Homo sapiens: one gene and its partner. The protein of the gene in region 1 purifies or fractionates together with the protein of each later gene. This does not show direct contact. Each region holds a gene or a part of one and is shown in the gene's direction. Other genes may lie near its edges.

The links. The genes of interacting proteins can lie anywhere in the genome.
Region 2: the proteins of EYA4 (region 1) and GLO1 purify together in Homo sapiens (affinity purification with mass spectrometry, with the first as the bait; one large-scale study listed by BioGRID). This does not show direct contact.

The regions. Positions count from the first base shown.
Region 1 is NC_000006.12:133,510,357-133,513,856, forward strand, and holds part of EYA4 (protein phosphatase EYA4), read left to right. Parts: exon of another isoform or gene 1-370; intron 371-2,364; coding exon 2,365-2,423; intron 2,424-2,521; coding exon 2,522-2,682; intron 2,683-3,500. UniProt on the Homo sapiens protein: Tyrosine phosphatase that specifically dephosphorylates 'Tyr-142' of histone H2AX (H2AXY142ph). 'Tyr-142' phosphorylation of histone H2AX plays a central role in DNA repair and acts as a mark that distinguishes between apoptotic and repair responses to genotoxic stress.
Region 2 is NC_000006.12:38,675,425-38,679,145, reverse strand, and holds the end of GLO1 (lactoylglutathione lyase), read left to right. Parts: intron 1-1,762; coding exon 1,763-1,851; 3' UTR 1,852-3,221; downstream 3,222-3,721. UniProt on the Homo sapiens protein: Catalyzes the conversion of hemimercaptal, formed from methylglyoxal and glutathione, to S-lactoylglutathione. Involved in the regulation of TNF-induced transcriptional activity of NF-kappa-B. Required for normal osteoclastogenesis.

The DNA.
Region 1 (3,500 bases):
ATGTGACACCATTTCAATAGTGATTTATTTCAGTCTACGGACTTTCCAAGTATGTCACCATCTCTAAATAAGAAATAATCTCATCATTTAGAACTACTTTGGTGCCTCCATATTCTGGGAGAAAAACTTTATTTCCAACCCTTATGCTAATGGGTAAAATCTCTCCACTCTTTTCCTTAAAGCCCAGTCCAGCAGTTACTATCATTGCTTGCAATGCCTTTACTGGATGTTTTTCAGGAAGCATAATGCCTCCTTTGGTTACAGTTTGGACTGCACTCCTTTCAGCCAATACTTGGTCAAAGAGGGGAAGACATTTTCTAAATACCTGTCCGGCCAGGCCATTCCTTGGGCAGTCTCTGCACTCTTCTCTCTCCCTTCCTTCCACTCTTGACATAAATATCTTCTTACTCTCCTCACCATTTAGAATGCTTTTATTTTATATCATCGTAACCTTGTGTTAGAAAATTTAAATGATTGTGGTAATCCTGTAAAGAATTAGCATTTGTCTAGACTTCTCCCATTTATTTAAGAAAGAATTGTGGAGTGATTATTCTATGCTAGATTGTGCCGTAAGTGGGGATGTAACCTGGTGAACCAAATGCCGCACTCCAGGGCACTTCCAGTCAGATTAAATTTGGGGACCCATACGTGTAGGTGGAGATTTATTCAAAACTTACTAACCCTGTAATTTCTGTAAATTATATGAACTTTTAACTTACCTGGATTTTCAAGTTACATACTCAGAAGGTACTGATTGGGCTAGTCACTGAGTTTTGTATATTAAAGGAAGCCTGAGTCAACTATACCTTTAAACTGGAACCGGATTAAACACTTTCTGTGTGGAAATCTGGAGACTAGGTATGAAATATTTGACTGCCAGATACTTTCAAGCCCAATAATGAATATAAATAGTAGCTTTCAAAAAACCTTTGTTTAGTATGGTGTATTTTCAAATTTAATGATTTTTTTTAAAAATTAATTTTGAATGCTAAGCACTATGTATATAGTCAGAAGCTGTAAGTATGAGTAAAATACTTTGAGGGGGACTAAGGAGGCCCAAGATGCTAAACCATACTTACTCTGAGGTTAATATGATGTAGTTATTTATTATAAATAATTTATTTTTATTTATTATATATTTATTATTCTGAGAACTAGGCATTTTAAATGCCCTCACCAAATTTCACCTTTAGATCTTGTAATATTGCGCTGGAACTTTGCAGATTATTTGAAGATGGACTAAGACTCAGAACAGCAAAGAAGGATCAAATCCTTATCCACATAAGTTACCATTTGTTCTGAGCACACAGTAACTTACAATCAGGTCAACTGTGGCCGGGCGTGGTGGCTCACACCTGTAATCCCAGCACTTTGGGAGGCCGAAACAGGCGGATCACAAGGTCAGGAGATCGAGACCATCCTGGCTAACACAGTAAAACATCATCTCTAGTAAAAATACAAAAAACACAAAAAAATTAGCCAGGCGTGGTGGCGGGCGCCTGTAGTCCCAGCTACTCGGGAGGCTGAGGCAGGAGAATGGCGTGAACCCAGGAGGCAGAGCTTGCAGTGAGCCGAGATCGCGCCACTGCACTCCAACCTGGGCGACTAAGTGAGATTCCATATAAAAAAAAAAAAAATCAGGTCAATTGTGTGGGTATACTTACATAAAGTTTATTTTGCTTGGAATTTTGTAGCACATTTGAGATGATAAATCGTCATTATTTCCCTTTTACTTAAAAGTAGTCTTTTTGATTTGAAAATTTAAAAACTTGACAAAAAGAAAATGTCAATATCTATGATCATTACCCTTTTTCTGTGTCAAAAGACTAGGACCTTGAAATAACACCAGCATGGTTCTTTCATGGTTCTGGTCCAGCAGGAAGTCATGGAAATTCCACAGGACACCATAATCTGAAGGCAAGCCCCTCTGTTGCCACTCAACAAATGATAAATAATAGTAACCATCTGAGGTGTTCAGACTAAGTTTTGTGTATCTTCAGATTAGCCATGCTTAAGTATGCACAACAGAAATGGCCTGGAAGGGAACTCAAATGCTTATGAAGATTCAAGAGAATTTCTTATCAATAATTTTAAGATTAAAATTTTTAAATTGCTCTAAAGAAACTCTCATGCCGTATATTTTCTCACCCCTCCTTTCTATGGAACTCTTCTGGATTTAAATTTTGTGGGGTAGAAATGGTGCCATTTCCCAACAGAAGAAAACAAGAGTGAGGCAATGAGATGGACGGGCACATGCTGCCATCTTCTGGTGGTAGTCTGATCAGATGAGAAGATGGGAAAACCTTCAAGCATGGTAACAAGCATCATTTAGAAAACAAATAACTTTTCCAATGTTTTTAACAGGAGTGTGATCAAGTTCATATAGATGATGTTTCCTCTGATGATAATGGGCAGGACTTAAGGTAAGCTATGCCTTTCAGTATGCTGTTTCCTACAGAAATTCGGCTGTGGAGTTTTGCACATGTAATTATTTCTTTTTAATGTATTTTGGGTGTTACAGTACCTACAGTTTTGCAACTGATGGCTTCCATGCAGCTGCAAGTAGTGCAAACCTTTGTTTGCCAACAGGTGTAAGAGGAGGGGTTGACTGGATGAGGAAGTTGGCTTTTCGTTACAGAAGAGTAAAAGAATTATATAACACCTACAAGAACAACGTTGGAGGTATGTGTGGCTTTTTCAATCTAACAAAGGTACTCTGGGTATAGGTAGAATTCAATCTGTAGTTTCATGTTAAAGATGATTCTGCTGTAAAAGAAACAAGCAAAAGCTCATATTAAACCACATTGAGCCAGAAGTTTCTTAGAATTGGTGGGAAAAAATTTAACTACAAAATAAAACATGCACCACCGTCACATAAATTGGGAATTCTTTGTGTAACCTTGTGCCCAGATGTTTGGTCAAGATTTATACCAGGGCATTTAGTTGACCCTTTATCAGCTGGTGCTTGGAGCATTATCAGTGAAAATCAGACAGAGGAACTAACCGAGGCAACAGAAAGAAGTCCTTTCTCAAGTAGAGAGCCTCAATCATTGAAGGACGGTGGTTAGCAAGCATTATCTTTCTGGAATCCCATCAAAAATAAATATAAACAGTTATTAATGTCATTTCAAAGACTTTCAACAGGTTTATTTTATCTTTTAAAAAAATCATGTTTTATGTCAGTGTATCATTCTCATGCATAGTGTCAACTATGATTATCATAGTTTTTAAAAGTTCAAATAATCTGTAGGTAATATCAAAACCATTTTATACCCCTTCATATATTTTACAGGTGATATCAAAACCTTTGCTATCAAAACTGTGATCCTGGATGTGCTTCTATATATAAAATAAACCTTGGTGATATCTTATTAGAATCAATTTTAGGTAAACAAGATTCCTAAAATTTGCTATTAGGTCACATCAGATTAATCTCCCAGGATTTTGTTTCTTTATGTGCTTCTCTTTTTTTCTAAAAAGGAAGAGTAATTGAGGAACAT
Region 2 (3,721 bases), about 95 Mb from region 1:
CCCTGTCTCCAGAAAAAAAACAAAAATAGCTCTTGGTCCATTATTCTAATATTTCTTCTGTTTGAATCTACAGTCCATTGCTTTGGGGGTGTTTTATGGTTATGTTTCTCAAATTATTATTTTTTGCCTCTGAGCTTTTTTCCCCTGCAACTGTTCGCTATTCTAACACATCAAGCAGTGTGAATAGGAGAATGGCCAGATCCCTGTCCTTAACAACCCACATGATCTCAGGACAATGGGCTGGATAAGCCTAGGCCAGAGATTCCTAGGCACCTAGAAATGAGACTTAAATTTATTTCACCTTCCACAAAACACCTCTTCAGGTTGGATCTTCCCACTTCATCCCTCAGGGAAGAGTATTAGTAGGAGACACTTCCGATAGTGTTATTCCCTAGCCCTGGGCGTGGAGAGAGGGCTGGGGAGATCATTCGGCCCTACCAGTTTTTCTCAGTTTCTCACAAGCACAAGGCTCCTGCACTGCCCTTGTTTACTGGTAAGGACATCTGAACAAGCGAGAGGGCAGGTGCCGATGCACACAGCAGTGAGGGAGGAGCAAGAGCAAAACTCTGTTCTCTCGCAGCCATTATGCACTGCCTTCTGGTCCAGGCCAGAACTACCACCTCCCACACAGCCCAAGTTAAAACAGTCACCCGGCCCCATCCTCACCCATTCTCCCCAGCTGTCACCAGCCGGGTTTCTTTCTTTCTTTCCTTTTCTTTTCTTTTCTTTTCTTTTCCTTTTCTTTTCCTTCCTTCCTTCCTTCCTCTCTCTCCCTCCCTCCTTCCTTCCTTCTCTCTTTCTCTCTTTCTCTTTCTCTTTCTCTTTCTCTCTTTCTTTCTTTTTCCTGCATTTTCCATCTATGTTCCTCTAGGATTGATCTTGGAGAAAGGAGGCAGAGATAAGAGTCAAACCAATTCAACATAATGGTCCCCAAATAAATTTCTGAGGTCATATTTTTCCATTTAAGCAAACAGCTCTGACATACTAGACTCTCAATCTCAGTTTTGAATTCCTGGGAGAAAGACTCTCGCAGAGCTTGGGTTGCCTAGGATAGTATTTAAAAGGGTTTGTATGACCCAAGCATCTGGGTCTTTTGGTTGTGGGGGTAAGCCATGCTACCAGCTCCCTTCAGCACCTCCCTATTTTCTTTTTCTTCTTTAAAATAAGACAATTTCTGTAACTACTGAACTGGTAGTGTGGTATCATGAAGGTGAGGCAAATGCCTGATACCTAAAAGATGCAGCCAGTCCCACAGTTTATTTCAGGAGGGCTGGTATTTGCAATGTGTGCAAGATAACATTTTAGTCATTATGAAAAGTATGACTTTTCATACTTTTCTGACAATAAGAATTTTTAAAATTTAAAACTGTAAACAAAATAATGTACTTCATTAAAATGCAAAGTAAATCTTTAATTAATAAAAGTTTTTAAGGCCAGGTGCAGTGGTTTGTGCTTGTAATCCCACCACTTTGGGAGGCAAGGCAGGAGGATTGCTTGAGGCCAGGAGTTTGATAGCAGCCTGGGCAGTACATTGAGATCCCGCCTCTACAAAATCAAAAAATTAGCCAGGCAAGGTGGTGCGTGCCTGTCGCCCCAGCTACTTGGCAGGCTGAGCTCAGGAGGTCAAGCCTGCCTTGGGCCATGATCATCCCATGCACTCCAGCCTGACATTCAGAGCAAGACCTTGTCTCAAAGAAAGAAAAACATTTTTATGGTGTTTTCTTTTTTAGTCTTTTCAATAATGAAAATTTTCATTTTACAGGTAAAATGAAAGGCCTGGCATTTATTCAAGATCCTGATGGCTACTGGATTGAAATTTTGAATCCTAACAAAATGGCAACCTTAATGTAGTGCTGTGAGAATTCTCCTTTGAGATTTCAGAAGAAAGGAAACAATGTGATTCAAGATATTTACATACCAGAAGCATCTAGGACTGATGGATCACTGTCCCGATTCAAATTATTCTTCAGTCCATTTCCCCTTCCTATTTCAGCTGTTCCTTTTCACCTAACTGTTCAGTCATTCTGGTTTTCAAGCAGTGCTTTATCTCATGTCCTTGAATATAGTTGTGTAACTTTATTTTTTAGGTAATAATTAGAACAGTTCCCTTCAGAGGCTGCATTTGCCTTCTTCTGCCACCTAAATATTACTTCCCTTCAAATCTGCCTTTGAATCATCATTTTTAAAAAAAAATTAACATGTTTTTGTTGTAGTTATCTTCTGGGGTTTCAATTCCTCAGAAACAACTTTTTTCACAACGGAAAGGAAAGAACACTAGTGTTCTTTCAGTAAAGTACAAAGTGTTTATTTTACAAAAGAGTAGGTACTCTTGAGAGCAATTCAAATCATGCTGACAAGGATACTGATAGAAAAAGTGATTTCTTCTTATTATAAAGTACATTTAAAGTTCAAGGACTAACCTTATTTATTTGGGAAAGGGGAGGAGGAAGGAAATGATATGGTACCCAGACACTGGGCTAGGCTGCAACTTTATCTCATTTAATACTCCCAGCTGTCATGTGAGAAAGAAAGCAGGCTAGGCATGTGAAATCACTTTCATGGATTATTAATGGATTTAAGAGGGCATCAATCAGCTCAACTCAAGATTTCATAATCATTTTTAGTATTTAGATTGTGCCTCAAAGTTGTAGTACCTCACAATACCTCCACTGGTTTCCTGTTGTAAAAACCTTCAGTGAGTTTGACCATTGTGCTCTTGGCTCTTGGGCTGGAGTACCGTGGTGAGGGAGTAAACACTAGAAGTCTTTAGTACAAAACTGCTCTAGGGACACCTGGTGATTCCTACACAAGTGATGTTTATATTTCTCATAAAGAGTCTTCCCTATCCCAAGGTCTTCATGATGCCAGTAGCCATATATGATAAATTATGTTCAGTGATAACTTAGTTATCAGAAATCAGCTCAGTGGTCTTCCCCGCCATGATTCACATTTGATGAGTTTTTAAAAATCAAAGTGATTTTGAAAATCTCTAATGGCTCAGAAAATAAAAACATCCAGTTTGTGGATGACTATATTTAGATTTCTCTAGACTCTAGTGGAAGACCTTTGGAAAGGCCATGCCAACCGTGCTTGTACTGCTAGAAGCACTTTATGTTTCCTTTTTGGGTGAAATGGATTTATGTGAGTGCTTTAAACAAATAGCAATACTTATAGACTGAAATAAAATGAAACTTCAAATAAGACTATGTTTAATTTGTAAACCTTTGTCCATCATGTTCTTTCTTTAAAAAAAAAAAAAAACAACTCCCCTTAGTGAGTACTGAAAGGATTTGAAAAGGCTTGTAGGCTCATTCTGAAGAGAGAACAATTGTGATTCTGTACAGCCCGTAAAGCAGGTAGTGTCTATGGATAAGGGAGTGTGGGAAAGGTGGGAAGAAGAAAGTGAATACGGAATAAAGGATTGTGGTAGATAAAGTGCAAACAGAAGAATATCAAAAGGTAAGGAACTTATGAAGACCAATTTCACATGTTGAGTGCTAGAACTGACAAACGGGAGGGCTAATACATTCACAAATTCAGTAATTTAAGCTTTATTTCCAAGGAAAGAAGCCTTCTCCACTTGCTGAGTAAAACTTGCCAAAAGATAGCCCTTGCTCATTCTTTAAATTCATTCCTATATGCATTTTTTTTAAATGTACAGTTGGCCCTTGAACAACATAGGTTTGAACTCCACTGGTTTATTTATACAGGGATTTTTTTC